Regions from separate parts of the Homo sapiens genome. Here regions 2, 3, 4, 5, 6 and 7 are each linked to region 1. A link means that fine-mapping ties the variant in region 1 to the expression of a gene that starts in the linked region. Tissue or cell type: whole blood. Region 1 holds a variant in brackets; each other region holds the start of a gene. Each region is shown on its reference strand, or each on the opposite one.

What was found. PIP is the estimated chance that this variant, and not a neighbour inherited with it, causes the effect.
Region 2: it holds the start of POLB, and the variant in region 1 is the best candidate, but not a certain one, in a credible set for the expression of POLB in whole blood (TOPMed, PIP 0.55).
Region 3: CDKN1B starts here. The variant in region 1 is the best candidate, but not a certain one, in a credible set for the expression of CDKN1B in whole blood (TOPMed, PIP 0.56).
Region 4: MAN2A2 starts here. The variant in region 1 is the best candidate, but not a certain one, in a credible set for the expression of MAN2A2 in whole blood (TOPMed, PIP 0.59).
Region 5: it holds the start of DUSP13B, and the variant in region 1 is the best candidate, but not a certain one, in a credible set for the expression of DUSP13B in whole blood (TOPMed, PIP 0.53).
Region 6: PBXIP1 starts here. The variant in region 1 is the best candidate, but not a certain one, in a credible set for the expression of PBXIP1 in whole blood (TOPMed, PIP 0.62).
Region 7: it holds the start of ARF3, and the variant in region 1 is the best candidate, but not a certain one, in a credible set for the expression of ARF3 in whole blood (TOPMed, PIP 0.53).

The regions. Positions count from the first base shown.
Region 1 is chr7:50,251,047-50,255,111 of GRCh38, reverse strand. No RefSeq gene overlaps it. Among named protein-coding and RNA genes, the nearest start is that of IKZF1, 52 kb to the left of the region's middle. The variant T/C (reference allele first, on the strand shown) is at 2,454.
Region 2 is chr8:42,336,044-42,340,108 of GRCh38, reverse strand. POLB (DNA polymerase beta) reads right to left here and starts at 1,615. Exons shown (of 14, transcript NM_002690.3): 1 at 1,424-1,615; 2 at 1,040-1,097. The coding sequence starts at 1,484.
Region 3 is chr12:12,715,615-12,719,679 of GRCh38, reverse strand. It overlaps CDKN1B (cyclin dependent kinase inhibitor 1B), which reads right to left and starts at 2,312. Exons shown (of 3, transcript NM_004064.5): 1 at 1,366-2,312; 2 at 726-855. The coding sequence starts at 1,840. The coding sequence ends at 734. It also overlaps a transcript of GPR19 not described here. RefSeq lists enhancers at 59-108, 179-258, 2,109-2,208, 2,289-2,338 and silencers at 1,746-1,934, 2,359-2,928.
Region 4 is chr15:90,901,731-90,905,795 of GRCh38, reverse strand. MAN2A2 (mannosidase alpha class 2A member 2) reads right to left here and starts at 2,494. Exons shown (of 23, transcript NM_006122.4): 1 at 2,364-2,494; 2 at 1,457-1,606; 3 at 288-545; 4 at 73-217. The coding sequence starts at 1,588. RefSeq lists enhancers at 1,504-1,563, 3,404-3,453 and silencers at 2,514-2,943, 2,964-3,233.
Region 5 is chr10:75,097,505-75,101,569 of GRCh38, reverse strand. DUSP13B (dual specificity phosphatase 13B) reads left to right here and starts at 2,058. Exons shown (of 4, transcript NM_001363514.2): 1 at 2,058-2,539; 2 at 3,685-3,858. The coding sequence starts at 2,133. It also overlaps a transcript of SAMD8 not described here.
Region 6 is chr1:154,953,888-154,957,952 of GRCh38, reverse strand. PBXIP1 (PBX homeobox interacting protein 1) reads left to right here and starts at 1,854. Exons shown (of 11, transcript NM_020524.4): 1 at 1,854-1,884. It overlaps PYGO2 (pygopus family PHD finger 2), which reads left to right. Exons shown (of 3, transcript NM_138300.4): 3 at 1-927.
Region 7 is chr12:48,955,050-48,959,114 of GRCh38, reverse strand. ARF3 (ARF GTPase 3) reads left to right here and starts at 1,628. Exons shown (of 5, transcript NM_001659.3): 1 at 1,628-1,805. RefSeq lists enhancers at 2,301-2,380, 2,436-3,431.

The DNA of each region.
Region 1 (4,065 bases):
ATTAGAAGCCAAATTATTTTCATGAACACAGATACAAAACCCCTAATCAAAATATTAACAAAATCCAGTAATATAATAAACAGCAATACAGACAACTAAAATGGGATTACTCCAAAAAGTCAAATTTTGCTTAATATTGGAACATTAACCAATGTAATTTTCCACATTTACAGATTAAGGAGAAACATCTTATGATTATCTCCATAAATGAAGAAAAAGCATGAGATACAATTGAATACCGATTCATGATAAAAATTCTTAGGAAACTAGGAATCTTTTTTTTTTTTTTTTTTTGAGATGGAGTCTCGCTCTCGCCCAGGCCGGAGTGCAGTGGCACTATCTCGGCTCACTGCAAGCTCCGCCTCCCAGGTTCAGGCCATTCTCTTGCCTCAGCCTCCCTAGTAGATGGGACTACAGGTGCCCGCCACCACGCCTGGCTAATTTTTTGTATTTTTAGTAGAGATGGGGTTTCACCGTGTTAGCCAGGATGGTCTCGATCTCCTGACCTCGTGATCTGCCCGTCTTGGCCTCCGAAAGTGCTGGGATTACAGGCGTGAGCCACCGCGCCCGGCCAGGAATCCTTTCTTGATCTTATAAAGAAAATTCACAAATACAAAACAGAAGGAAAAGAAAATAAACAAAATCCTATGGCAGCTTCCGCTATGGCTGTGTTAGCTCCTGCTGGACCAAACCTCCCAGAGACCAGCTAAAAACCCTGGACAAAACACAAAAATATAACCTGAAGGCACCGGGGTGAATGAACATAGGCAGATGCCACAGTGGAGTTGATACTCGGAAGAAGACACAATATAGGGTAAGTGTTGTCCTTTTTCTTGGTAGGCTTTTAGCTTGCAACAAGACCTGGATGTGTGCCATGCAGCCTGATGTGAGGTGTCTGGGCCAACTGGGATTAAAGAGGCATCAGTGCAGGAGAGGGAGATTGGTTATGGCCAAGGAGATTAATCAAATAAATATTAAGAATAATGAGAGCTAGTTTCTTATTGTTGGAGAAGGATGTTAGAAATATAAAGGAACCAAACTAAAACTATGGTTCTGAATTGAAATCGAAGCTATCTGTAGATTTGTCCATATTATCACCTATGTGTAGGTATTTATACAATGATATGCCCTAGCTCTGTCTCCAAGAAATAGTAGAAACAGCAACATTCAATAGCAATGAGTACACCTAGATCCAGCTCTTGGTTTTGCAATACCATTTCCACCAAATGGGAACCATGGATCTTTGGAATAATGGTTGATTTCAAAGCTAGAACAGAGAAAATATGACATGAGCTTGGAATAGTTTGCTGTGATAAAGTAAGAAAGTTGTTAAGGTTTGAAAAGGAACACATTAAAAGGACACAGAAGAAAACTTGAAGAGGGTCCCACTGTTCAAATCTAGAAGAATTTAAACATTAAAATACATCAGTATAGTAATGGATTGTAATCCACTGAATTTAATAGGGAACCAATAGTTCATAGTGATATAGACAATAAATAAGTGAACAAATTATAACTTTAATGAGGCATGGGATATTTGCATAGTCTCTCAAAGCAGCTACCCATAAAACCCTCAATTAAAAAGGAAAAAAACAATTTTACAGTGAAGAAACATGACACTTACCACTTTAAGCAATCAAAGTCAACATCACTAGTAATGAAACAAATCGAAACTGTGTTTCACTTGATAGGACACAGCAAGACAAATCACAGCACAGCAAATCATGAGGAGACACCAGGCAAATCCAAATTGGGAGAAATTCCTAAAACACCTGGCCTGTATTCTTCAAACCTGTCAAGAACATGAAAGTCAAGGAGATACTGAGTAACTTTTTCAGGTTGAAGAAGACTAAAGAGAAATTATAACTAAAAGCAATGCATGTTTCTAAACTTGATCCCTTTGCTATAAAGGATATTTTGGACCAAATGACGATACTTGAATTGGGTTTGTGGATTGAATGGCAGTCATATAACAATTTTAGTTTTGTATTTTGATAGACTTATGGAATATGTTTTTGGGTAATTTATTTGTTTTTAGAAAATGTACTCTAGTTTGGGATAGATTGAGCATTATGTCCACAACCTGCCATCAATGATTTGAAGGTACAAACTTTTTAGTAGTGTTCTTGAAACTTATCTCTAAATTTGAGATTGTTTCCAGAAAACATTACTGTAAAAAGAAAGAATATGATCAATTTGGAAAAGTGCACATGGGTCTATATGTTTGTAATGTAAGATACATGAAGAAATAAATATAAGGTACATATTAGGTTTTGAAAAAATAGTGGGAGGTAAAGCTAGAGCTGTATTACAAAGAACCAAATGATTCTTATGTTTGACATTTTAGGATTTTATGGAAAGGAATGTCATGATCTTTCCATAAAGGATGGCATTTTAGAAAACAGCATTCCTGTAGCTTAACAGAAGATAGAAGGAAGAGGGTGGAGACACTT[T/C]AAACAGACAGAGTGACTATTTACAAAGCAAGTTAGAGGCAGACCGGGACTCAGGAAGAGATGCTTCAGATTTTGTGTCCATTGCATACATATTACAATTACAAGCCAGCAAGAACGGTTGGAGGGAATGGGTTAATTCTAAACCAAATTGTAATGGGACAAGGAACAACTGGGAGATAAAGAGTGGCAGATTTGGCAATCATGTATCATAATAGACACCTTGGATTTTTAGTTTTTTAATATACCCAGATCATTCCTAAATCATTCAGAGAAGCACAGCTCTATTGCCAAACATGCAAGGCTGTCCTACTGCCTCAGGCCGGCATGTCACCAGGCAGGCAGAACTGAAGCTGAGAGCCTATGGTTGGGACATTCTGACAAGAGTTGGGGAAAGAATGTTTCAGGTATCTGGTGGTACTTGTGACATTTGTGGGAGGTCTTGGGACCATACCAGCGAGGGCTCAGGATGGCAGATGTTTAATGCCACTCCATAGAGGCAGGTTCTGGAGAGGAGAGATGTGCATCGGAGTCTAGGGAACAGAGCTGAGGTTGGATGTCAACAGCAAACCATTGGGAGGGTCTTAGCAGACAAAGAAGGGAGAGCACATGAGGGCCAGTGACAGTGCAGTCAGAGGTGAGATGATATGCAAGCTGGTCCAATGGACACACCCCCCAACCTGTTATGTGGCTGCCCCTCCTGCTCTCTGTGGCGTCCTGAGCTAATCAGGCAGGAATGGAGACAGGCTGAGCAGAAACAGAGCTTCTCTGTTCCAAGAATGTCCTGGGCCTTTCAGAGGCATTATTGTGCTTAATACTTGCACTAGCCCACCAGGTGGTTATTTAGACTTCATTTATACATAGTAAACCTGAGGCTAGGCGCAGAAGCACAGTACTTAATTCAGTGGGAATCCAATGCTGTCTGACTCCAAAGCCCTAGAACTTGCTTCTGCAGCCCTGGCACTTGGCTCAGATCTACTTACAAGCAAGAAAGCTTGTAGAGTGATGCCCAGGACAATGGCAGAATATGTTCCTTCCATAAAGCTGTCAGAATTATAAAATTCAAGATGATGGAGAATCTTCGTATTTTTACCAGTAATCAATGGTGTATCCTAGAATTTTAGAATTCCAGGACTGGCTGAACTTAGTTGCCAATTTATCATTTTTATTTTTAACTGGTTTGCAAATTGTAGCACACGTAATTGAGGCAACTTCACAATGAGGACATTGGATATTAAAGCTCATGGAGGATCTATTAACTTTTTTTTATTATACTTTAAGTTTTAGGGTACATGTGCACAAGCTGAATGAAATGAAGTTTTAGTTACTTCCTATCAATGCTGTTCTCTCTCCTTCATGAATCTATTGCTTCACAGAAAATGTCTTAAAAGACAGAAAACAAAACAACAATAACGAAAAAACACAACCCCTGTCATCTGTTTTAAAACAGTTCTTATAATAATGATAGTTTACAAACTTGTGTGACTTTCAGATCATAATAAAGCATAATAAGTACTGACTATGCTTGTAATAGTTTAACAATTTAAAAATCATTTTAGTGACTATTTTATCATCATCTAAAATATAATCTCTCACTATGGCTACAAAAATAGAT
Region 2 (4,065 bases), not on the chromosome of region 1:
TCCAATAAGATGAGACGTAGGTGAGCGGATTTTCAGAGCACTGGTAGGTCCAGGCAAGGACTGGGACTTCTTGAGTAAATGATTAGGTATTAAGAAGTCCAGGCAAGGAATGAAGATTTTTCAAGAAGATTCACCATAAAGTGAGAAAAGAGGGAAGGTGCTAGCTAGAGGGAAGTTAAGATTGTTTTGGTTTTGCTTTTAAGAGCTGAGGGACTTGCACATATTTATAGGCTAAGGAGAGCTGACACCGAGGCTGATGCCTGGAATCCCAGCACTCTGGGAGACCAAGGTGTGTGGACCATTTGAGTTTAGGAGTTGGAGATCAGCCTGGGCAACATAGCAAAACCCGGTCTCTACAAAAAAAAAAAGAAAAAAAAAGAAAGAAAAAAAAATTAGCTGGGTGTGGTGGCGTGCGCCTGTAGTAGTCCCAGCCACTCAGGAGGCTGAGATGGGAAGATCACTTGAGGCTGGAAGGTTGAAGCTGCAATGAGCCATGATCATACCACAGCGAGACCCCGTCTCAAATAAAAATAAATAAATAAATAAATATAGGCTAAGGAGTAGAAGCAGGTGGATGTGGAAAGAATGAATAGGATAAGGCCCCTGGTGAGATGAACAAGGACAGGATCCCATGAACAAGGAACAAGGATCAGGATCAGGATCCCACAGGATCAACTTTAGACCAACCAAAAGAAAAAATGTGATTCCTTGAACCACATATATTTCACAGTATGGACTTCATCCGCTGTCTTTCATTACGGTTAAAATTACACCGCATTTCTAGTAATTCATGTTTGATGATGACAAAATACGTATCAGGCTACAGCTATCTGCAATCAGAATTGGGAACTTATCTGAACTGATCCTATAACGCACTGCCCACATTCTTCAAGAAATAGTAAGGTACCAGCCTCGATTCTTGCTTTTTCCCGCTCTTGCAGATGGACCAAATATCCACTGGGCCCTCAGTCCTGTTAATTGCCACACTAAACAGGGTATCCCAGAACGTATGCTACCCGAGAATGCTGCACTGTCCCACCTGTAAGCATTGTACTTGTGGATAGCTTGGCTCACGTTCTTCTCAAAGTTTGCGAGTTCTGAAAGGCAACAGAAGGCTCGGGTGAACAAGAACCACGAGTAAACAAACGAGAACTGTTTTCTGGAAGGGGATATGGCAGCCTCTAAGAGACAGTGACCACCCGTTTCCTCCAAGGGCCAGACCAAAAGCAGCCCAAGCGATGGCCCAGGTGTAGCCGGCAGGACTGACAACCAGCCAGGGGCGCCGGAGGGAGATCCCCACGGAAGACGACCCGCTGCAAGGAACCTACCCTACCCACTGGACTGTCGGTGTGGGAGAGAAGGAAGGCAGGGGAAGAGGCTGGAAGGAAAGAAGAAAGCCAGCGGGGCCCGGCCCGGTGCTAACCTGTGAGCATGTCGGTGATTCCCCCGTTGAGAGTCTCCTGCGGCGCCTTCCGTTTGCTCATGGCGGCCTGCACCCGAGAACCCCAGAGTGTTCAGAACCAGGGACTAGAGCCCTCTCCCAGCTTGAAGGAGGTACCAGGACTTGGAGACGGGAGCAGGAGCAACCCAGCTCCGGCGCGACCGGCGGAACAATGGTTGCCCCCGATGGGGGGCGGGGCGCACGGCGCTTGTTGTGACGTCACGCGTCCTGGGCGGGGCGGGGCGGGGCTAGAGGGGCGAGCCCTCGGCAGGTGAGGAGAGAGAACTCGGAGGGTTCGTGGACTCGTGGACGTGGACACGGCGCGGGGGAAATAGGCACCTCAGAATGACAGCCCAGGGGCCTTCCTATGGGAAGACCTGGAGTTTTGACCTAAGATATTAAATCTGTTTTCTCAGTGTTTATCTGGAATCCTTTCCCTAGAAGGGGAAACGGGAGTGCGATCTTGATTCTGAAATACTTGCGCTGGTGGGGTAGCTTCCTGCACAAAAATGTGCACTGTAATAGCTACCCAATGCATGGCGCGTTTTGTACGTGGTTAGAGGCGACACTGGCGTCACACTGTCAAAACTTTCTCTAAGGATACCGGGCAGTCCACACTCCAGTGCAGCCCCTTACGTACTAGGGCGCTGCCGGAGCCCGGCGTGAACCATGCCGAGAACAGGAATCCTCCCGCACACGTGTTAGTACACCTGCCAACCAGTGTCAAAAGATATTTTATTTTTAATCCCCCTGCCTTTGCGGTAGGGACCAAATTAATGAAGAGACCACAAGAAAGGGAGAAGTGTTTCATCTAGATCATGAGCAATGGAACCCTAATTATAACATGATGACCTACATCTGAGAAATTTACAGTCTGCTTGAGAAATGGAAATGTCACATCAGCAATAGTTTATTTTACAAGCGTAACTCCTGGGTTCATATCGAACTGCAATTCCAGGCAATTGCTTTGTGCATCGAAAAATTAAAATTTATTACAAAATGATACGTAGTTGCTGTAGAGAAATCTGGAAAAATGTATAAAAGGAGAAAATTAAAATCAGTGATCTCACCCTACAGCTGAACTATTAATATTTTGGGACGTACACTTCTAGTCTTCTAACCCAGTCTATTAAAAATTCCCATTATTTTCCAATAAATATCATTAGTTTCTTTGATTAGCAAGGTTGTGGTGATTGTGTTTCCTTACAATATCAGTGTATATCTTAAGTTATGCTTATTGGAAATCTGTAATTCTTCTTTTTTTGAATTTCCTATTCATATCATTTACCATTTTCCTAATGGGGGTAGTTTGTTACTAATCTGGTAGATCTTTTCTATATATTACTACTTGCCCTTTTATGGATAGCTTTTGTAAAAATTTTGTACATATTTGTATTTTCCTCAATTTATTACTTGAGGAATAAAAGTTAAAAAAACTTTATGCCTGCAACTTAACTATCTGATTAGTTAAGCTGCAGTGAGCAGTGACCACTCTCATTTACTCTTTATACTCTCATTTACATATATGACTTGTCCTAGTTTTCCCTGTTCACACTTTTTTCTGTCCAATCTCTATTCCAGGTGATATTCAGATTATTTTGCTCTGAAGAATTATTCCTCCTTAAATAAAAATGTATTTACCTCTGAATTTTAAAAGTTACAAATGTAGGGAATTGTGGGATCAGTTTTACAAATTTTTTTGTTTTGAGACAGAGTTTCACTCTTGTCCCGCAGGCCAGAGTGCAATGGCACGATCTCGGCTCACTGCAACCTCTGCCTCCCGGGTTCAAGTGATTCTCCTGCCTCAGCCTCCCGAGTAGCTGGGATTACAGGATCCTGCCACCATGCCCAGCTAATTTTTGTATTTTTAGTAGAGATGGGGTTTCACCATGTTGGCCAGGCTGGTCTCAAACCCCTGACCTCAAGTGATCCACCCGCCTTGGCCTATTAAAGTGCTAGATTACAGGCGTGAGCCACTGCACCTAGCCCATTTTTACAAATACTATATTTTTAAAATTAGTGCCAGAGAAACCAAGGAAAATAATCCATTATCTGTCCTTATCGTCTTAGAACAACCGACATTTGATCTGCTTCACAAAGTTCTTCTTGAAATAACTTGCTTCAATTGGCTTCTAAGATTCCACATGCTCTGGGCTTCCTTTTTCCTCACTGGCCAGTCCTCAGCAGGGTGTGTGTGTGCGCACATGTGCGCCTGAGCACTGGTTCCCAGCTCCTCCTCCACTCTCCAGCCTTTATGGGAAATGGCTTCACACTTCAGTCTTCTAACCAGCTTTTCCAACTTGTCCAGTTTTACCTGTTTAAATGGCATGTCTAGCTTGAAAGTCTCCTAAACTCATAGTTCAAGTCTTGACCTCTCCCTTGAGTTCCAGTCTCATACATCAGGCTGTCTACTGGATAGCTCTAGTCCATAATAGGCATCTCAAAGATAAAATGTCCTAAAGAACTCCTGACTCTTGCCCCACCAGCTTCTCCTTAACTTTCCCCCATCTCAGTTAATAGCATTTTAATCCACCCTGCTATCAGGCCAAACCCATAAGAGTCATTTTTAATTGCTCTTTTCACACCCCACATCCCGTCTGCCAGCAGACCTTGTCTGTTCTGTC
Region 3 (4,065 bases), not on the chromosome of region 1:
ATACACTGGCTGACGTGTTCCTGGATTGCTTACTGACAAGAGTTAATTTAACTTCTGCTTTGCAACTTCAGTGTTACCAGAAATTCTGTAGAAACTTTAGTAACTTTTTTATCTTTCCATTTGGTTTTTGCAAATACTGGTTCCTTCTCTCTCCAAACTTAGGAGACAACAGGGAAAGTGACAGTTTATTAAAATGTCAAAGAACACAACATACCATCCTATTCACATCTCTAATCCCTTGCATAACCAAAGATGAGCAATTTCTACCAAACATTCCCCCTCAAAATTGAAACTTAATCATGTATTTGCCATTTTTCCATGTATGGCTCAAAATCTGTTACCGACTCAAGCTGAACCTCTAGGAAATTAATTCTCATTAATTCGGACTGAGGGAGTACCCTAGTTCTTGTTCGGATGGGCAAAGAACCTATTGCTCCCAACACGTTTTAGTGGGACTCACAGGGAAACGACCTTCCTACCCGATGGGGCCTGGGTTACAAGTAGCTGCTCTGGTCAACAGTTTGAAGAGAAAGTATCTCTGGGCATAGAAACTCTGAGGAATTACCGTATCCCCAGCCTTCCCCATTGCTACTTTTTTGACCTCACGAAGTATAAACAAAACAAAACCCCATAAGCTTTTAATTTGCCAGCAACCAGTAAGATCAGGTATCGTGAGGTCTGAAGGCCCCGGGTTCCAGTGCGTGCTCCTTTAGTGATCAACCCACCGAGCTGTTTACGTTTGACGTCTTCTGAGGCCAGGCTTCTTGGGCGTCTGCTCCACAGAACCGGCATTTGGGGAACCGTCTGAAACATTTTCTTCTGTTCTGTTGGCTCTTTTGTTTTGAGTAGAAGAATCTAAGCGCAGGGGAAATTTTTAAAAAGAACACACAATCTTTATTAGAAAAAACAATGGCTGGCAGAAGTTGGCCCCATAGTCAGGGGATGAAAAACCCACTACCTCCACCCACAATCCTGGATCCGTCATCCCCAGTGGCTTTTAAGGGCACAAAATGAGGTTGTTTTCAAAAAACAGAAAGTGCATTCTCCGCCCCAGAGCTCTTTCCCTAGCCAGGAGGCGGACCGTTGATAAACATCCCAACTTTGTCACATACCTAGGAGTTGCTAGTGAGAGGGACCGCGATGTATTAAGTTAGGGAAATTATCGGATCTTACCATCTCCAGTTTCTGACTTAAAAGTCACAAACAGACAAGCAGTGGGCCAGGTAGCACTGAACACCTAAGACCAATAAAGTTAGCTCTCCCAAAGCTAAATCAGAATACGCCGAAAAGCAAGCTAAGGTTAACACCCTCCAGCAGGCAAAGCGGGGCCCCAAACACATTCTATGGTTGGGAAAGGGTCATTACCGTCGGTTGCAGGTCGCTTCCTTATTCCTGCGCATTGCTCCGCTAACCCCGTCTGGCTGTCCGACGGATCAGTCTTTGGGTCCACCAAATGCGTGTCCTCAGAGTTAGCCGGAGCCCCAATTAAAGGCGCCGCCGGGCGGCTCCCGCTGACATCCTGGCTCTCCTGCGCCGGCACCTTGCAGGCACCTTTGGGGGGCCGCGGGGGTCTGTAGTAGAACTCGGGCAAGCTGCCCTTCTCCACCTCTTGCCACTCGTACTTGCCCTCTAGGGGTTTGTGATTCTGAAAATCGAAATTCCACTTGCGCTGGCTCGCCTCTTCCATGTCTCTGCAGTGCTTCTCCAAGTCCCGGGTTAACTCTTCGTGGTCCACCGGGCCGAAGAGGTTCCTGCAGGCCGAGGGCTTGGGGTGCTCCGCCTGCCTGGCGTCCATCCGCTCCAGGCTAGGGCTCCCGTTAGACACTCGCACGTTTGACATCTTTCTCCCGGGTCTGCACGACCGCCTCTCTCGCACTCTCAAAAAAACAAAACCGAACAAAACAAAGCGCCCCTACGCAGCCCGAACCCCTCTCGGAAGCCCAGCGACTGCCCTCGGAGCCAAAAGACACAGACCCCGACGAGCCACGGCCCGAGCTCTAGGAGCGCGCAGGGGCTGCGGGGAAGCCCCGGCCCGGCCGCCGAGTCTCCGCTGATCAAATGGACTGGCGAGCGGGAGGGCGGAGAGGAGAGGGGACCAGGCAAGCGGAGAGGGTGGCAAAGCCCGTCCGAGTCTGGGCGGGTGCAAGCCCGCGGGTCCCGCGAACCCAGCCGCTCTCCAAACCTTGCCGGCGTCGGAGTCGCAGAGCCGTGAGCAAGCGGGGACAGGGGAGGGGGAGAAAAACACCCCGAAAAGACGAGCCCCCTTTTTTTAGTGGCCCAATATGGCGGTGGAAGGGAGGCTGACGAAGAAGAAAATGATTGACACGGCGAGTCTATTTAAACAGAGGAGGAGATCCATTGGTTGCGGCGGCGGGAGCCGCCCCGCCGAGGCTGGCGAGCGCGGCCTTAAGGTGGCCCCGGCGCGGTTCCGCCACCTCCCCTCGTTCCCGAGCGCGCCGCCTCCCCGAGCGCCGCCGGGAGATTGGCTGGTCGCGTGACTGCTGGAGGGGTACTGCTGCCAACAAACCTGCTCTGGCTGGCCTCGGAGAAATTAAAATTAAGACAAACAAACTAGCCAAACGGCCGGGAACCTGGGGCGGGGCCTGAGGTTCGGGGCCCGGCGCTGCGTTGGCGGGTTCGCCGCGGCGCCTAAGCCCCGACCTCCCTCCCGCTCCTCGCCCGGGAAGCCGGGACCTGGACCAGAGGACCGCGAAGGTCGCCGGCAGCTCGCTAGGAGCCGGGGTGGCGAGCTGCCCCCAGCTCGGCCCTCCCCAGCGGCCCCCACCTCGTGGTCTGCGGGGGAGGCCGCGGAGCGTTTGCTGGGGGGGCTGGGCGCCCCCCCGCCGGCGTGCCTTTGCTGGGGGCTGGTGGAGGCAGTGGGCAATGGTTCGCTCAGCCTTAACCCAGAAGTTTCTGCCATCCCTGGGGAGGCTGGGGGCCTAGGGAAGAAGCCAAAGCGAACGTCTTTCTTTTAGAAATTAGCCAGGAGTAGACGCGGCACTTATCATGAACTCAAGCTCTCCCTCAATGAAAATAAGAAAGGAACTCAAGATTAAAAAAAAAAAACAAAAAACTCTAGTCTCTCAAGTCCCTTAATAAACTTTGTAGCTGTCTCAGACACGTTTAGTTTTGAAAAACGAGGGTACACCCCTGGCCCAGGATCTTCCTTCCCAAGCACAGTTAAGGCCATGGACATTGGCTGCGTGTGGGAACTCGTCCCTTTCTACTTTTCTGTTCTTTCCCGGGATTGTAGCAGTTTCCTCTACCTGAGTCCAGCCGCCAAATACAACAGCTCCTTCCTTCCTCCACCCTTCTCTCTCACCAGATTTCACTGCTCCAACAAACTCAGAACAATATTCAGATGCTAGTGAATGCTTTCAGAGGGCTGAAGGGTGAAAATACTCCCCTCGGGGTCAAACTCCAGATGATGAAATGATTTTTAAAACACCACAACCATGTCCTAACGTCCGATACTAGTATTCCAGCGTTTCTCTTCTCCCTTTTGCAGCTGGAAATTTCTCTCTCAGTGTGGGCTTGAGCACCGTGGTGGAAGGTAAAGTAGGACGATGAGCAGGGCTGCCCTGAGACAAAGCTCAGTGGATCTTCAACTGCCTCCCCACCCCCATGCCCGGTACCCATCATCTTGGTTTGAGCCAAAGTTAATGCATTTTACTGGAAACCAACCTTCCGTTCTAATATTACACAGCAGCAAAGTTTTCTTAAGCACCTATGCTACAGATGAGCTTGATGTGTAGCTTGTTTTCTTAGCCACATCTTGTCCACTTTGTGTGCCTACCTCATCTCATACGCTCCAGAATGTGACAGCTGGAAGGGACCCTCGGGACCCTGTGGTTTAACCCTCTCCTTTTTACCACGGAGGAAATCGAGACTCAGAGAGGTTTCCTGTCCAGGGACATGCATTCGGTTGGTACCGGAGTCAGGACTAGATGCAAGTCTCCTAACACTCAGGTTGGTTCATTTTCTGTTCCTTTCCTTCCTAATGGTTCTCACTGGTTCAGGGTTTTGTCTGAGTTTGATTGTGCTGTAGTCTGCAGGTCCTGCTGT
Region 4 (4,065 bases), not on the chromosome of region 1:
GTCCCTCCCTTGTATTGGCCATCAGAAATCCCACTCCACACTCCAGCTCCCAGGAGTCTGCAGGGCCCTCACCTGGGTCATTGTGAGAGTGGGGCACCACAAACACCTGCAGGTCTTCAGCATCCCAGTCGTGCGGGTCGTAGGAGATGTCGAAGCCTTGCCTCCACACACCACCATCCACGTTGTCAAACGGCAGCTCCTCCGACACAGTGAGCATCTGCCAGGTGAACTGCAGCTCAGTACCCCAGTCGTGGCCACTGTACGTCCCTGCCAGCTCTGACTCTTACCTGCAGCTCTGGCTTCTGACCCCGGCCCCCCAAAGCAAACTGGCAGTCCTGCGGGGAGATGGAGAAGAAGCTGGGCCGGGGCTCCGGTGGCACCACCCAGGAGCCATTGACCGTGTAGTAGGGCAGCATGGCGGGCGGGCCCTCTGCGTTGGCTGTCAGCTCCAGCACGGAGTCCTTGATATGGCTGATAATCTCATGGTTCTCCTCCAAAAGCTGCTCCAGCTGCTCAATGCGGTTCTGCAGCACAGAAATTTGGCTCTGCCAAAAAACCAGAAAGCAATCACACACAGCTCCTTATGCCACAGGGAGGGTCTCTGCTTGGGGTCTACCAGCTGAGGCCTGAGTACAATTCTTCCCTCATCAGTCAAAGCCAGACCATGAGCCTAGAGGGATAGATGACACCGTTCAGATAAAGGGAGCTGTGCAGATCACCACTGAGGACTACACTCCACTTGGGTTGGGAGAACCATCACTCTCTAGCTCAGGGATGGCAAAGATTTCCTTTCACCTACCTATTCTCAACAATCGGTGTTGCCTGTGCTGAGGATTTCAGCGGGGCTTAATGGCAAAGAATGCTGCAATCAATTAGCAATGTCTGCCAAGAATTCAGGAGGGGCTGGGCGCGGTGGCCCACACCTGTAATCCCAGCACTTTGGGAGGCCAAGGTGGGTGGATCACCTGAGGTCAGGAGTTCAAGACCAGCCTGGCCAACATGGCGATACCTCGTCTCGTCTCTACTAAAAATACAAAAATTAGTCGGGCATGGTGGCAGGCTCCTGTAGTCCCAGCTACTTGGGAGGCTGAGGCAGGAGAATTGCTTGAACCTGGGAGGCGGAGGTTGCAGTGAGCCAAGATCGCGCCACTGCACTCAAGGCTGGGCGACAGAGCGAGACTCTGTCTCAAAAAAAAAAAAAAGAAAGAAAAGAATTCAGGAGAACAGAGTGACAATACTCATTGCCATTGACATTTTTTCTTCCTTCCTTCTTTTCGCCATCACTGTTTTTAGCTGAGGGTTTCTACAAAACCTGACTATTGGGAAGGAAGGCTCCTGTCCTGTACTGACATTACCCTCCAGCGGGGGGTGGGAGGGGAGGCGGCGGGGTGGGAGGTGCATACCCTGAGCCCAGGTGACTTGTATACAAAGAAATTAGCAACCAGGCACGACTCACCCGGGGGAAGTTCCCACCATTCTGGTGTCGGGTGGGATCGTGTTGCACTCGGTCCAGCATGAGGTAGAGCGAGAAGACTGCCACACAGAAGATGGCAGCCCCACACACTGTCACCTGCTTTTTCAGCTTCATACTGGCCTCCACACACACCTGGCAGGAAGGACACCATCTGTAGCTCCAACATGCAAAATGCCCGTGGCAGTCTTTCCACCAAATACCCCAGTGAGTTCCTGAGGGCTGTTCCAAAGGAACACCCATTTGCCTGGCTCCAAGTAGCACAAGCAGCACATCTGAGGCTGGCCCACCTGGTCCTGGTAGCAGCTCTGCCGCTAGGGTGGAGAGGACGCTCTCCTTTGGCTGGTGCTATGAAAAACGGGCCCAGGATAAGAGTCCCAGCTCCGACTGGAGCGCACCACACAAGCTCCTGATTACACAGCTTCCCTGCCTAGATAGGAGGTGCCTGTTCAGGCTCCTCGGCCATGTGCTTCTAGTTTCAGGTGAATAAGCTAGTCTCTATTTTGTTTGATTTAAAAGTTTAGCCAGAACCCAAAGAGACTGATAGGAAAGCCTTTCTCAGTGCCCTTTCGGGTCAAACTGGCACTCACCAGAAACAGTGCCTGGCACGATCCTTTCTCAGAAACACAGAATGAGTTTCTTTCTAATAAAGAAGAAAGATGCTTGTGTTTCTAGCATAAAGCAAGCCCTGTGTGTTCTCCCTGTTTCTCTACTGTTCACTGCAGTGGGAAACTTCCAGCCGCGGTTTGCAGAGCACTTAGGGGACCCCTAGGAAGCCTGCAGTGACGCCGAAGGCCCCCTGGGAAGGGAGAGACGGGGCCCAGTGCTCAGCTGCGAGGCAACTTCAGGGGACCCGTGCCCCCCGCCGCCACCGCCCTCGGGCTCCGCTTGCCTGCTCAGGAGGAAGGAGGACGCTAACTGCGGAGCCGAGCGTGGGCGGGACCGCGCTCCGGAGTCTGCTCCGCGGGCCCTGGGGCCGAGGAGCTTTGTCGCCTCTGCGTTGTGCCCTACTTAGCGCGATCTGATTCTGCTCGGGAGCTTCCGGGCAATATTTTCAGCCCTTAGAGACTGGGTCTAGGCCAATGTGGGTGGAGCTGGGGAGAGAGTTGGATCACAGAGGGCAGGCACCTGCCGCCAGGTCTCTGGCCGCCCGCCCGGCTCCCTCCCCACCCGCTCCGACTTCGTCGGCCCCGGGGACCGCAGAGACAGGCGCCAGGTACGGGCCTCAGGCAGCCTCCTGTCCCTTCCTGGCCCCTCTGACGCCGCAGTGGCGCTCGCACTCCCGCCGCCCGAGCCCGGCCTCTGTCGGGGCAGCCGGAGCCCTCCCGCGCGCGCACCCGGCCCGTTACCGTCAGCGCCCGGCCTCCGCGCCGCTCCGGGCCCAGTCGGCCGAGCTGCCGGCTCTCACACGCCCGGGGACGGCGGCCCGCGTGCAGGCAGCGACGCAGGCGAAGGCGGGCGCCCGCCCACCCGTAGCCCCCTGCTCCGCGCGCCGCTGCCGCGCTCCCGCTGGGCCCCGGGCCGCCGGCGCGCTCCGCTGCGCCGGCCCCGCGCGGGTCCGCCAGCCTCTGAAGCTGCCGGGCCCAGCAGCGTGCGGGGCGGGGACAGCCGCGCCGCCCGCCCCGGCCTGCGTGTGCCCGGCGGAGCTGACAGGAGCTCTGGCCGCCGCGGTCCCCGCCCGGCTCCTCCCGGGCCCGCTCCGCTGGGCTGCAGTGCGCAGCCGCACCAGCCCGGGCCGGGCCTGGCCAGCTGCGGAACCTCAGGAGGGACGCGCGACTGAATTTTTTCGGAATCCTACTTGAGTAAGCGCATGATCGGGCAGTGGTCGAAACGCCCGCCTCCGTCTCGGCAGACGCGTAGCGGGGTGCGTTCTCCGCGGCCTCACCCGGCTCCGGCCCAGGTAGCCTTAGGTCTCTGTCGTTGCGCCCCTCGGGCAAAGGGGTGCTGCCTCCTGTCGGTACAGCGCATTCCTCGAGTCCCTTTCCTTTCCGTGCCTGCTCTATGTTTCCTGCCAGCGAGTGAACAAGACACAGACTTTTCTTGGCTGTTTCCCTTTTACTGGGCATCTAGGTTGTTTACAGTTTTTCAGTGTAATCCATACTGCAATGAACATCTCCATGAATTCCACATTTTTGTTCTTTTTAAGTTATATATAACATTATCTGAATGTGACCCCCCAAATTCATGTTCAAATCCTAATCCCTCAAGGTGATGATGGTATTAGGAGATGGGCCTTTGGGGGTGAACAGAGTTTGAAGGGAGAGCTCTCATGAATGGGATTAGTGCCGGTATCAAATGACCCCGAGAGTCGGCCCCTTCAACCACGTGAGAACACAGCTAGAAGGCACTATCTGTGCACCACAGGCAGGCCCTCACCCGACACTGAATCCGCTTATGCCTTATCATGGACTTTCCAGCCTCCAGAACTGTGAGAAAATACATTTCTGTTGTTGATAAACTACCTACTTTATGGTATTTTGTCCTAACAGCCCGAACAGATTAAGACGTTATTTTATGATGAATTTGCAACAGTGAAGTTACCCGGGCAAAAGATAAGGACAGAGATGACTGATGACACTATCGCTCCCCCAAAA
Region 5 (4,065 bases), not on the chromosome of region 1:
ACTGTGAGGATTCAATGAGAAAATGTGAGCACCTAGCTCTGTCTGGCACATAGTACATCCTTGATGAGTGCTAAATATAACAATTATTGCTGGACAGAGAAAGAAATATCAAGAAATACAGAGATAGAGAAGAAATCTCACTGTCCCGTAGGGAAGTTACCCTCCACATAGGATATGGCTGGGGCTGGAAAGGGTAAGAGTAATTATAGTAGTGATAATAATAGTAAGACGTGCCATTTATTGGGCATCTACCATAAGACAGACCCTGTGGGAGGTGCTTTACATTAATTATTACATGGAATTCTCACAGCAGCCCCACTGAAGAAACTGGCTTGGTGAAGACAAGACCACATAGCTGCAAGTACCAGACCTGAGATTTCTACCCAGGTCTGCCCTCCCCAAGACCCTCAGGCTGAGCACAGAGACCCACAGCTGTTCCCCACTGGCAGCCACACGCCACCCTTCTGCAGGCCTTCTCCCCACACTCCTCACTGGTCCTGCCCTGAGATCTCCAGCCCCACATGGCCTGTGGCCACACTTCTGTCTGGCCTCCCTGGAGTGGAGTCAGAAAGGATGGGCAGGAAGAAAGTCCAGGGGACTATCTGAAACTGCAGCTGAGAGGTGGATGGCAAACAGCTGCCCCCTGCCCCAAGGAAGCCTGTGCCTCTGCCCGATGTCTTGGGCACACAGAGCAGCGTCATGGGAGGCTGCAAAGGCACATGAGCTTCCTGGGGGAGGATGGGAGACAGAGGCAAACGGGGGAGTGACCCAGGGAGGAGAGATGCAAACACAGAAAAGAAGTGCATGGACTTGCAAACAGCAGCAGCACAGGAGCAGCCAGGAAAAGCCCTGCCTACAGAGGCAGCTGCTCTGCTGAGCGGGGGAGGCAGGAAGGGGGCGAGGAGGAGCACGGGATCAGGGAGAGAAGGAAGACTGCAGGGAGTGGGAGGGGAGCTCGGCCGGGCCCTGGCCCTGCTGGACGTTGGGCCTGTGCTTCACCCAGCTGGGGACAAGGAGACATGGAATGTAGTGTCAGGCAGGGCCCTCCGAAGACCAAGTCTCAGGTGTCAGAAACCGGCGGAGCTGCCACAACCACCGACTTCCCCTCCTTGGGAGGGACTGGGGCTTAAAGGACGAGTCCCTGGGGGGGTGGCCGGGCCTGACTCTGACTGATGGGATGGGCTGGGTCCCAGTGGGTTAGAGTGGACAGGTGGGGCAACACCCTGAGCATCGGGAGCAAGGCATTAGGTGGAGCCTGACCAGGCATAGCGCTAAGTCCAGGGGAGAGCCCCGTTCTTCAGACCTGGGCCTAGGTCCCCTCGGAGGCAGAGGCATGCACTGTGGCCTACCAGCCCCCAAATCCTTGACCCCTCTGGAGCCTCCTGGGGGTGGAGCCTGGCTGCCTGCTCCCTGGCAAGGCTGGGCTGTGACACACCCATTGGCCACCAGGGGGCAGCCTCACCCCATGCCAAGCTCCGCAGGCCTGAGCCCGGAGCCTGTCCCACTTCCCAAAGCCCCATCTCCTGCCTGGGGTGGTGCAGCCCCACCTGATGGCTCCAGACCAGTGTGGCTGTTGGACTCCTCTGGGTCCTGGGGGCTTCCCCAACTCCACCACACTACACTGCCCTCTGCCCTGCAGTGACCGCATATCCAGACACTCCTCTCTCATTCTCGGGTCAGACCCCCAGAGCATCCTGAAAATTAAGTCCAGCATCCCTAGCATGGGAAGATAAACTGTGGTCCAGATGGGAGCAAAGACTTGCTCGTGGCCACAGAATGAGTTATGGCAGAGTGCTGGGGGAGCCAGGCTCTCCTCCCTGCCTCAGAAGTTCTCTTCCCACCTCTTCAGGTAGACTCCCATCTTCATGGAGGTTTATGGAACCAACGGTCTTCAATCCCAAACAGATACCAAGCAGAGAGGAGGCCTGGGGGTTTAGAGGGACCGGAGGGCCCACTGCAGTCCACAAGGCCTCAGTCGGCTCTCAGGCCCCACCCCCCATGGGCGCCCCAGCCAGCACCTGGAATTCTAGCCGCTTCACAGTGTTTGTGTTCTGGGCAGAACCTGCCCAGCCCTGTTCCGCTCAGGCAGAGTCCTGCCCCTGCACCCACTCCCCCATTCCCGGCCCCAGGCCATGCCCCAGGTAGGTGGCAGGCCACTCAGCCACCTGGAGAGGTCACAGTGGGGGATGAGGAGGACAGCTTGGTCTTCACTTCCGCCTTGCCCGACAGCCTCCCACTGGGTGAGCCTGGCCAAGCCGGCAGCCTCCTGGGTGCCTGTTTCTTTTTCTGGTCCTGGCACTGCCTACCAAAGGGAAAAGATGTTCTTCCCAGTATGCACCTTCCCTAGTCACTGGTCCAGGGGATCAGGGGCAGTTAGCAAAGACAGGACCCCCTCTCCAACACGGCACCAGGCCCATATTCTGGTGCCGCTGAAAATCCAGCTCCGCAGGGTCCCTGACTCCTTCAGCCAGCAGATGCCTGAAACAAGCTACCTGACCCGGGTGGGGCCTGACATCCAGTGCTGGCCTGAGTCGTGGGGGTAAGGAGGAAAACCCAGGGCCTGTAGGCAGGTGTGTGGCTCAGCAGTACCAGGCTCCCTTGAGGAAGCAGATGGGTTAGTGACCACTCTCTGGAGGCCCCAAAGATGGTAACTGAAAGGCTTGGGGATGGACTAAAACCCCAGCCTTGCTACTCATGAGCCGTATGGCTTTGGGCATCACTTTTAAAACATTCTGAGCTTCAGCTTCCTCCTGGGTAAAATAGGAACAGATATCCCACGAGTGAGACATCAGGCTTTTTGTTGTTGTTGAGATGGACTCTCGCTCTGTTGCCCAGGCTGGAGTGCAGTGGTGTGACCTCAGCTCACTGCAACCTCTGCCTCACAGGTTCAAAAGGTTCTCCTGCCTCAGCCTCCCTAGTAGCTGGGACTACAGGAGTGGACCACCACACCTGGCTAATTTTTGTATTTTTGGTAGAGACAGGATTTTGCCTCATTGGCCAGGCTGGTCTCGAACTCCTGACCTCAGTTGATCTGCCTGCCTCAGCCTCCCAAAGTGCTGGGATTACAAGTGTGAGCCACCGTGCCCAGCCAGAGGCATCAGGCTTATAAGAGGCATTAGCTCATTCCATGCGGAGTTGCTAACAAATACCAGTTCACAGTCCTGGCCTCTTACCTGGAGATAGGCTCTGATCTCCAAGCCCCTGAAAGTGGGAGGGGACGGGGGTCTGAGGATGAGTACTGGAAGTAGCAGGTGAGGGGGCTTGAGATGAGCTGCTTAGGTTGGTGGGGGCTTCCTGGGTGCCCTGAGAGCCACAGCCATCTGGGGCTTTCATCCCTACAAAGTCCAAGCTGATTTAGGGATGAGATCTGCACTGACTAGTGCCACAAACAGGGAACTCCAAGGGCCCCTTGGCCAAAGCTTCATACATCTGCAGCTCAGCAGAGGGCAGGAGAGAGGTCTGCCCAGCTCCATAGCAGTGACAAAGGCTTGATTCCCTTGTTCCCTGGGGAAGGGTTCTAGGCCTCAGCCCCAGCTGAGCTTGTTAATACCTCATGTGAAATAGATGAAGCCCTTCCTGCAGCATCCCCGTGGCACCTAGGCACTGCACCATGGGCTTCCCCATCAGCTGGATCCACCCTCTGGGAGCCTGCCTCCAGCCACTGCGGTGTCCACTCTGTTCCAGGATGGACTCACTGCAGAAGCAGGACCTCCGGAGGCCCAAGATCCATGGGGCAGTCCAGGCATCTCCCTACCAGCCGCCCACATTGGCTTCGCTGCAGCGCTTGCTGTGGGTCCGTCAGGCTGCCACACTGAACCATATCGATGAGGTCTGGCCCAGCCTCTTCCTGGGAGATGCGTGAGTAAGACCCACGTTAGGAGTGGGGATGGCGGAAGGGTGTGAGGTTCACACGGGAATGGGGGCATGAGCCTCTCTCAGAGCCCTCTAGGGCAGAGGTGGCACGCTTGCCTCCCACCGTCTCTTTCCCTATGTTTCTTTCCTTTTATATTATTACTGCTTTTAACTGTGGAACTAGAATGCACATAAGAAAAGTGCACAGGGCCG
Region 6 (4,065 bases), not on the chromosome of region 1:
TGGTACCCTCCTCCCCCAGCCCATCTGTTGCACATTATACTCCGTGTGTTCTTCAACTTTCGGCGCCCTTATTCCCCTGCCTTCCTGGCTTGATTGAAGGAAAGCTTGAAAAGGCGCAGAGCCCTATACCTCATTTCCTCCATGATAAAAGGATCCAAGTGAGGCCCTGTCACAGCCTGTGGGTAGGGGATGCGGCGGGATCCTCATTGCCATGGTACTCAAAGGTAGAAGAGCCTGGAGTTTGTTGCTTCTCTTTGCTATTCTTTCATATCCTCTTGGGCCTGGTGATTAATTAGCAATTCTCATTCCTCTCAGCCAAAGGCCTGCACTGGGCTTTATTTGTCTTTTTTTATTTTTTAAGCACTGCCTGCCAGAGATGGGCCTGGGGCCTGATGAGGACCTTAGCGCTGCTCGTTCTCCTTTTCTGTTCATGCACACATTCCTCCATGGGGTGGGGAAGGCAGGCATGGGGTGTGGCCCTCGGAGAAGTTAGGAGTCCCCCAGCTCAAGATACAGTGGCAAAGACCTAGTGGTCCCCTACCCCCACTTCTCTCAGTTCCTGGCATGAGGAGAGAAGACCCTGCTCTGGTGGAGCTGACAACCTTTGAGGCTGGGAGGAGAGCAGCCTCTGGGCATCGTTCCCAGTGTCCCTCACACTAAAACGGCGTAGATGGCAACCCCCCACCCCCACCCCGCTGCTCAACTCTTGTGTTTGTTGTTCTGTTTGCCCCATTTATCTGTTGCTGTTTTTGTGTTGTCTTCCCCTGCTCCGCATTTTGTAAAATGGCCCCTGGGGGAGTGTTTTTGCTGGATCTGCTCCCTCTCGCTCTCTCACTCCACTACTTTTTGGAACAAAGTGATGGCAGAATGCGGTGGTGGTGGGGGTCTTTTGTACTGTTGGATTAATAAAATGATTTTAAAATCCCAGACAAGGACTCCTTGCTGTTGCTGTGTGAAAAGGCTGGAATGAGCCGCTGTCACTGCTGGGTAGGGTGCTTAGGGGTTGAGGATATGTATGCTCCCCAGGGTCCCTGGGAGTGGGAATGGCAGATTTGGCCCCTGAGCTGACCCTGGTATAAGCTGCTGAGCCAAGGGAGGCCTGTGTTTCCCCGCCCATCCCCCTGTGTCTCCACTGTGAGAAACTGAGTTTCCTTTTTGAGCATATTCCTGGGCCAGGCCTGGAGCCAGGCGGATTTGGCACCACAGCCTCTGGAAGACAAGTGCTTGAGCTCTTCTGGGTTTAGCACCCCACCCACCTCCCAGTTGTTTGGGTTAGGGAGCAAGTGTCGCTCTAAGGGTGAGGGGAGGGGCTGCTTCTGTCCTAGCAAATTTCATTTTGGGATGTTTTTCAGATCGTTCCCGTCCCCCAACCGTTTTTTAAAGTAGCAATGGCATCTTTTAAGCAGTCTGTTTTGGAGCAGATTGGGGAGAATGGCAGGAGGGCTATTTCCACACCCTGGATTTGCGACCTGTCCCTCTCCCTTCCCCCATCTCACAGCTGTCTCTGTCTATCCTGGGGCCAACCTGGCCCCTTGTCTTCGTCATCTCAGAAGACGGCACCGTCTGCTTTTCTCTCAGTTTGTGGGGGTTCCCTCTAGAAACTGTTTAGACACTGGGAAAGAAGGGCAGGAAACTCAGGATTCGGTTAGCTGGGACCCCGGTCGCCCACCAGGAGGTAAGCCCAGGTTTAGGGCCGTGTCGCTAGACCTCCCTTCCCCTCCCCTGGCTCTCAATTCCTGCTCTTATTGGCCAAAAGTTTCCGCCCCCTTGGGGAAGTTGACTTTTCATTGGTCAGTTTCTGGTCACATGATTTTCTTCTCGGGCTGCAAACAAAGGGAAGCCTGCAACAAGTTAAGCTGAAGACCGAAGCAAGAGCTGGTTCAGGTAATGCCTTAGCTGGGAAGGGGTCCACAGATTCGCTTTGAAGGGGGTGGAATAAGGAAAAGGGAAGGCGGAACTAATCTAGAAGGAATGAGCTGCTTTTCATTTCTGGGCTGGGGGAGGAAGGCCAGGTGCCGACGCTAACACAACAGGAACTTGCTCTGGGTACCCCAGGCAAGTGGCCCTAGATCCTTTGCTTTAGCGGTTTGGAGGAGCAACTGTTAGAGGAGTTTAAATTAACTAGAGGCGAGACTTCCTAGCTTTATGCTGAGTGGGAGAGCTCCCCCTTTAGCTGTTTTTTAGAAATAGCAGAAGTCTCTGTCATAATCCTTACAGGAGGTGTTTGTTGAATCCTGCCTGAATGAAAAGAAGGGGGTGGAGGGAGGGAGTGGAGGTGGGTTTTCTTCCAGAAGGTCGATGAAAAGAAAAAGATCTGGAAACACAGCAGGGAAGGGTGGAGATTAGACAGCAGAAGGAACTTCCTAATAAGGCAGTGAGATGCTGGCTTGGGAGAAGAGGTGTTTTTTTGAACCCTGGGTTAACCTAACCAAGAAAGAGGTATCAGGGTTTGGAACCCAGAGTATAGGAGTTTCAGAGTGTCTCCTATTTGGGTCTCATAAGTATTTGTTTTGTTGACCCAAATACCTTTGCTGGTTTCCATGGAGACAGTGGGTCTGACATCACTGTGGTTGCCATGGTGCCTGGTTCTAGAGGACCTGAGCAGGCTGCACACACAGCTAGGGATAAACAGGGACTTCAGCCCAAGCTGCTGCCACTTCCTTCCTGCCACCACCTGTTAACAGTCAGCAACTGGGGATGGGGAGATGATAACAAGGGCGGGGGTGGAGCCACAAGCGGAAGGCTGAACAGCCATGGCTCTATGGATACTTACAGATGCATGCCAGGGTGTCCTGTTGGATTTGGTACAGGGAGGTCATTGCAGCCATTCTCCTGTCTCCGTGTGGAATGGGTGCATGTGTCTGGGAGGATGGGCATTGGGAAAGACCTATCCAGGACTTGGATCTTGACTGGCAGGAGCCACAGGAGGTTACTTAGGGCACCACGCAGGACTTGAAAACAGCTCAAACAGAAGGGGATAATGTGGTTGGTTTCAAAGGTAGAACTGCCATACTCTCCCAGCCTCACTTCCCTTTTCCTGAGTTTTCTTATAAAGTGCTCGGGAAGCAGTCATTTATCCTGTTCTGAGGGATCACAATCCAGTACTCTTGAGAGGTCAGCTCATCTATCCTTCCACCTTTATGCCTGGTCCCAACAGGAGCTGCCTGAGGGAACTGTTTTAGCCTTGGATGAAGGGGCGGATCCCTCTCTTCTTACCCTGCTTTGTGTCAGTCAGGCTTTGGAAACTGGAGTGATTCCCTCCCCTATCCCTGTCAAGTCAGAGCAGATTAACCGGGTGCAGGACCATAGCCCTGATTTTTGTCTATTTTTTGCAAGCTATAAAGTGATGTATATATACATGATAGTTGCCATAAATCCATTTTCCCAGTCACCTTCAAGTTCCCTAAGACCAAACTCTGGCGATTACTAAGAAGGTAAACAGAATTTAGGATGAAGACTGAGAGTGATGAGGAGACTTATAAAAGGTGCATCCAGGTGGATCTAAGCTATGCCAGTGGCTCTTAACCCTGGCTGCGCATGAGAATCATTTGAGTGGTTTTTTAAAAGACCCACAGCCGGGCCTACCCCCCAACTCAATTGAATCAAAATCTTAGGTGATTCCAATGTGCAGCCAAGATTGAGAACCACTGAACTAGACCATACCAAGGACTTATGCTGGGCAAGTGGTGGGACACTTAGGGCTGAAGGAGGCCATTGAGTCTTCCCTTCCAGGTCCTGGGGGAGAAGGTAGTGATTGTGTAGGTACCTGGTGTTGTGAAGGGAGGGCTGTGTTGTTTCCCTGCTCTTCTTATTAACAAGTCTTCTTATTGGCAAGTTGAGTCTGTCAACCTTGCTGGGCTTCATCTTCCCTGACTCAAATGTCAGGGGGCTGGACTGGAATTCCCCAGAGCCTTTCCAGCCTATGCTACTTTGACCTTTCAAGGTCAGTTCAGTTTTCCAAGGCCCTGTTGGTCCCTGGAAGAGGCTGGCTTCTCTGTGGGTGTTGGCAGATTCTGATTTGCAAGGCAAATACTGCTTAGAAGAGCTGGGGTGTCAGGGAGAGAA
Region 7 (4,065 bases), not on the chromosome of region 1:
ATCCATCTCATCCCTTACCATCTTAAATTAAGGTCCCCTTAGCTTGACATTCTAGGGTCATGTTATCAGGTTAACATAAGAGAGAGAACAGACTGGGTTAAGGGACTGTAAGTGCATACACCAGGGATTGATGAGGACAAGGAGATCGACATATATGGCACCTACCAGCTTTTTTTTTTTTTTTCTTTGAGACAAAGTCTTACTCTGTCGCCCAGGCTGGAGTGCAGTGGTACGATCTTGGCTCACTGCAACTTCCGCCTCCCAGGTTCAAGCGATTCTCTGGCCTCAGTTCAAGTAGCTGGGATTACAGGTATGTGCCACCATGCCCGGCTAATTTTTGTATTTTCTGGTAGAGACAGGGTTTCACCATATTGGCCAGGATGGTCTCAAACTCCTGACCTTAAGTGATCTGCCCACTTCAGCCTGCCAAAGTGCTGGGATTACAAGTGTGAACACAGGGCCTGGCCCCAGCTTAGTTCTTCTTGGAAGCAAGGAAACAAACAAACAAAATCAACCAAGGCAATAAATTCATAAGAGCAACAATTTGGGCTCAAGCCTTAGGGAAGAGCCATGTGTTCATTCCCTTATACTGCTGTAAATGAGGAGAGAGGGCACTTAGAGAACCTTCTATTGGCCGGGCGCGGTGGCTCACGCCTGTAATCCCAGCTACTCAGGAGGCTGAGGCAGGAGAATCGCTTGAACCCGGGAGGCAGAGGTTGCAGTGAGCCAAGATGGTGCCATTGCACTCCAGCCTGGGCGACAGAGTGAGACTCTTGTCTCAAAAAAAAAAAAAAAAAAAGGAACCTTCTGTTCTTAGCATTACTAGTGCCCTTCTATCACAGCTATTTTTGTTTCAAGGCAGTTCTGCATGTCTAGACCAGGTGCAAAACGGAGTGTGAGGGAAGTAGGAGTGGGTAGGAAGCAAGAAATATGGGTGCAAAGTCCTTCACCTTTCCTTGGGATACTAAAATCCCTACTCATCTAGGCACACTTCCTCAAACCACACTTCTGAATATTAGGTTTCCACTCTCCGTCTTTCAAGTTCCAACTTAACTGGCTCAGAGTCCAGCTGTTTTCCTTTAGCCTCTTAAGTTCATCACTCTCCTTCCTCTTCCTTATGGGAAAGGATCTCTTGATTCAGACCCCACAGTAATCTAGTCTCAGGAATAGTGAGCAACAACAATGGTGCGGTGAGGGCTTTCAGGGGATGGCAGCTAGCCCAGATTAAGAAATAAAGATGAAGTCTGGCTGGGTAAGGCATGCCACAGCAACGACTGTTCACCCATATCCCGATGCTGGCTTTGCCCAAGGAGCCCCTGGGCCCCGCAGCCCAGCCCGTCTCCTACGCAGCCAACTTGCCGCCTCAGTCCTTAAATTCCAGGCACAACCCTGGAGCTTGGGATTGTCACCTCAGTCCTCACTGTCTCATCCCCATTCACGGCTCCCGCCTCCGCCGCCCACAGCCCCCACACCTGCCCCCGCCCTGACTCCAGCTCCAGCGCCCGGCCGCCGGTGCTGCAGCCGCTGCCATGGTGATGGGTCTCGCGAGAACTGCCGCTAGCTACCGCGCAGCTATCGCGCGATCGGGGAGGTGGGAAGTATCCCGGGCTGGGGGTGGGGGTACGCCGCACAGCTCCAGTCGCCGTCGCGGCTTCCGGTGCTAGGTGGAGGGAAGGAAGGAGGGAGCCGGGGAGTGGGCCAGGGCAGCAGCCGGGCTGAAGTCGGCTTGGGGAGCCAGAGGGAGCGGAGCGGAACCTGCGGGGCAGAGGCGGCGGCCGCAGCGGCGCAGCTGATAGCAGGAACAGGTGAGAGGCTGGGAAGGGAAGGCGGGTCCCGGTAGAGAAGAGGCTCGGTCAGGGTGAGGGCTGAGGAGATAGAGCGCCTCCCGGGCCCCGCCCGGCACTGCTTGGCGTGGGGCGGTGGGATTCTTCCCACCCGAGAGCTCAGAGAGGGTGCGTCGGGCCAGCTTCACGCCTGCCCCCGCATTTGAAGGACGCAGAGCTGGGGTGGGGGTGGGGGGCGCACACGGATTTGTCCTCCGCCTCGCTCAAGGGGGCGACCTGGGCTGCAGTTAGGTTGTCGCCTGCAGGAGGTGTGCTGTTGAGGGAGAGGAAAACCGTCCGAGGAGAGGTGATGAGGGGGCGGTGATGGCTGTTTGTATCTTTTCTGTTAAAGGGCTAGGGAATGCTGCTTTCTTCTACTCCCTCTCCCTCCCCCACCTTAGCAATAGGAGACGGGAGAGAAGCCTTGCTGTGGTTACACCCCCTCCCCCATCATAGGGCAGGGGTGCGTAGGGGGGTTGGGGGTTAGCCAACAGGGCAGGCTGCTGGGGCACCACATGGGCGCTATTGTGGTAGAGGTTGCGCTTTCGAGTCTAGGGAACCGCAGGTTGGGAAGAGGGCAGCAAGTGGGGAGAGGGTGGAGAGGAGGCAGGAGAAGGAGGAGGGGGATCTGATCTTCCTGGGAGAAGAGAGGTGGGGCCTTCCTCCCCAGGCGGAGCGGGGGCGGTCTCACAGGAGGAGGGAGCATCTTGTCACTGGCCCTCAGTTTGTGTCTTCCAATCCGCTTTCTTTCTTTAGGAAGTACCAGGATTCCCGGAACAGAAAATGGAGCCATTGCTTACGCGAATCGTTTGAGGGAAGGGGCGGGAGTTGGGGAGGTGGAGTTCCCTGTTAAAACGGGCCACTTGATTAGCAAAGTGGTAGCTGTTATTTTGGGGGAATTCCCGTCTTGATTGCATTAAGGCGGGTCTCCATCTTTCCAGGCCAGGAGGAATGTGGTGGTGGAGGTGGAGGATTGTGGTATGTGGTCAGGAGTGAGAAGAAATAGTAAGGCCGTCCCGGTGAGGGAGAAATGTAACCTAAAACCTGTCTCTGCTGTTGTTGGATTGGGTCACCCCTGGTCTATGGCATGAAAGTTTTATTGGGAGGAGATCTGCTGCAAGAGTCTGATTGCTTGGGTCAGTGCAACAGGACAGAATCTAGTCGCTGCATACCTCCTTCCCTGTCCTCAATCAGGTAGGTAGTAACAGTCTTTGCTGCTATTTTGTCTTGGGCTTGTTGTTGGGGTAGGTGTTTCCACTTGCCGTGACTTGGGACATGGGACAGTGTTATGGGACAGTGGATTATCATAGCCCATTGGACTTGAGTTTGAAAAACATGTCTGTAAAAGTTCATTCTAAGAAAGAAACTAATCCATTAAGGTTCAGCTTTTCACCGAATGAATGATTGACCTTGGATTCAGCCAGGAAAGGCTCCCATGTATCACATATTCACATGCGTCCTGTTTCCCAGCATAGAATTATTACCTTGCATAGTTAGAATTTTTATAGTTGTCTATCTTGCTTTTCCAAAGAGACTAGACGCTTTTCGACTGCAGGAACTGGATTTCGTCTCCTCTTCCACAATGCCCATGCAAACAGTAGGTACCCATGATGAATTTAGAATGTAAATAGATAGAACTCAACAAGCTTTCTAACTGTAGTTTAAGGAAAGGGCAAGAGATGGCTTGGCTGTCAGCAGAAGTGCCTGGAAATAGCTTAGCAAGGGTACAAAGACCCTTAGCCTTTGTAATTAAGAAGTTTTTGTGTCTCTGCCTTCCTAAGAGGCACAGAATAGGCATAGATAATGGAAACTTAAGACCCAAAAAGAAAAATATTACTAGAACACAGAGTCATTATCTGCAGTCCCAGATTTCCTGCTTCCCCATTGTGGGCAAAGGGGTCTCTCCATCAGACCTAAGTCTTTCAAAGTGTTATATATGAATTGGGATCCTGGAGAGTTTGGAGGAGGGACCAATATATGTATATGTGTGGTGTCAGGTACAGAATTGGTACCAGTGAATGGTAGCTGCTATTATTATACTGAATGCAAGTATAAAGGAGAGCAGACTGGAAAGAGTGGAAGTGAGTGAAATACTAAGTGCACAAAGAGTCATATTGTAGTGTGTGTTCACCCTACTCTTTTACACTAGAGTCATAATAAGAGGAAGTGGACTCAGGATAGAGGGTGGGATTTATTGGTTAGAAGGAGGAACTTCTTTAAAACCAGGTTGGTTAAAGTTGAG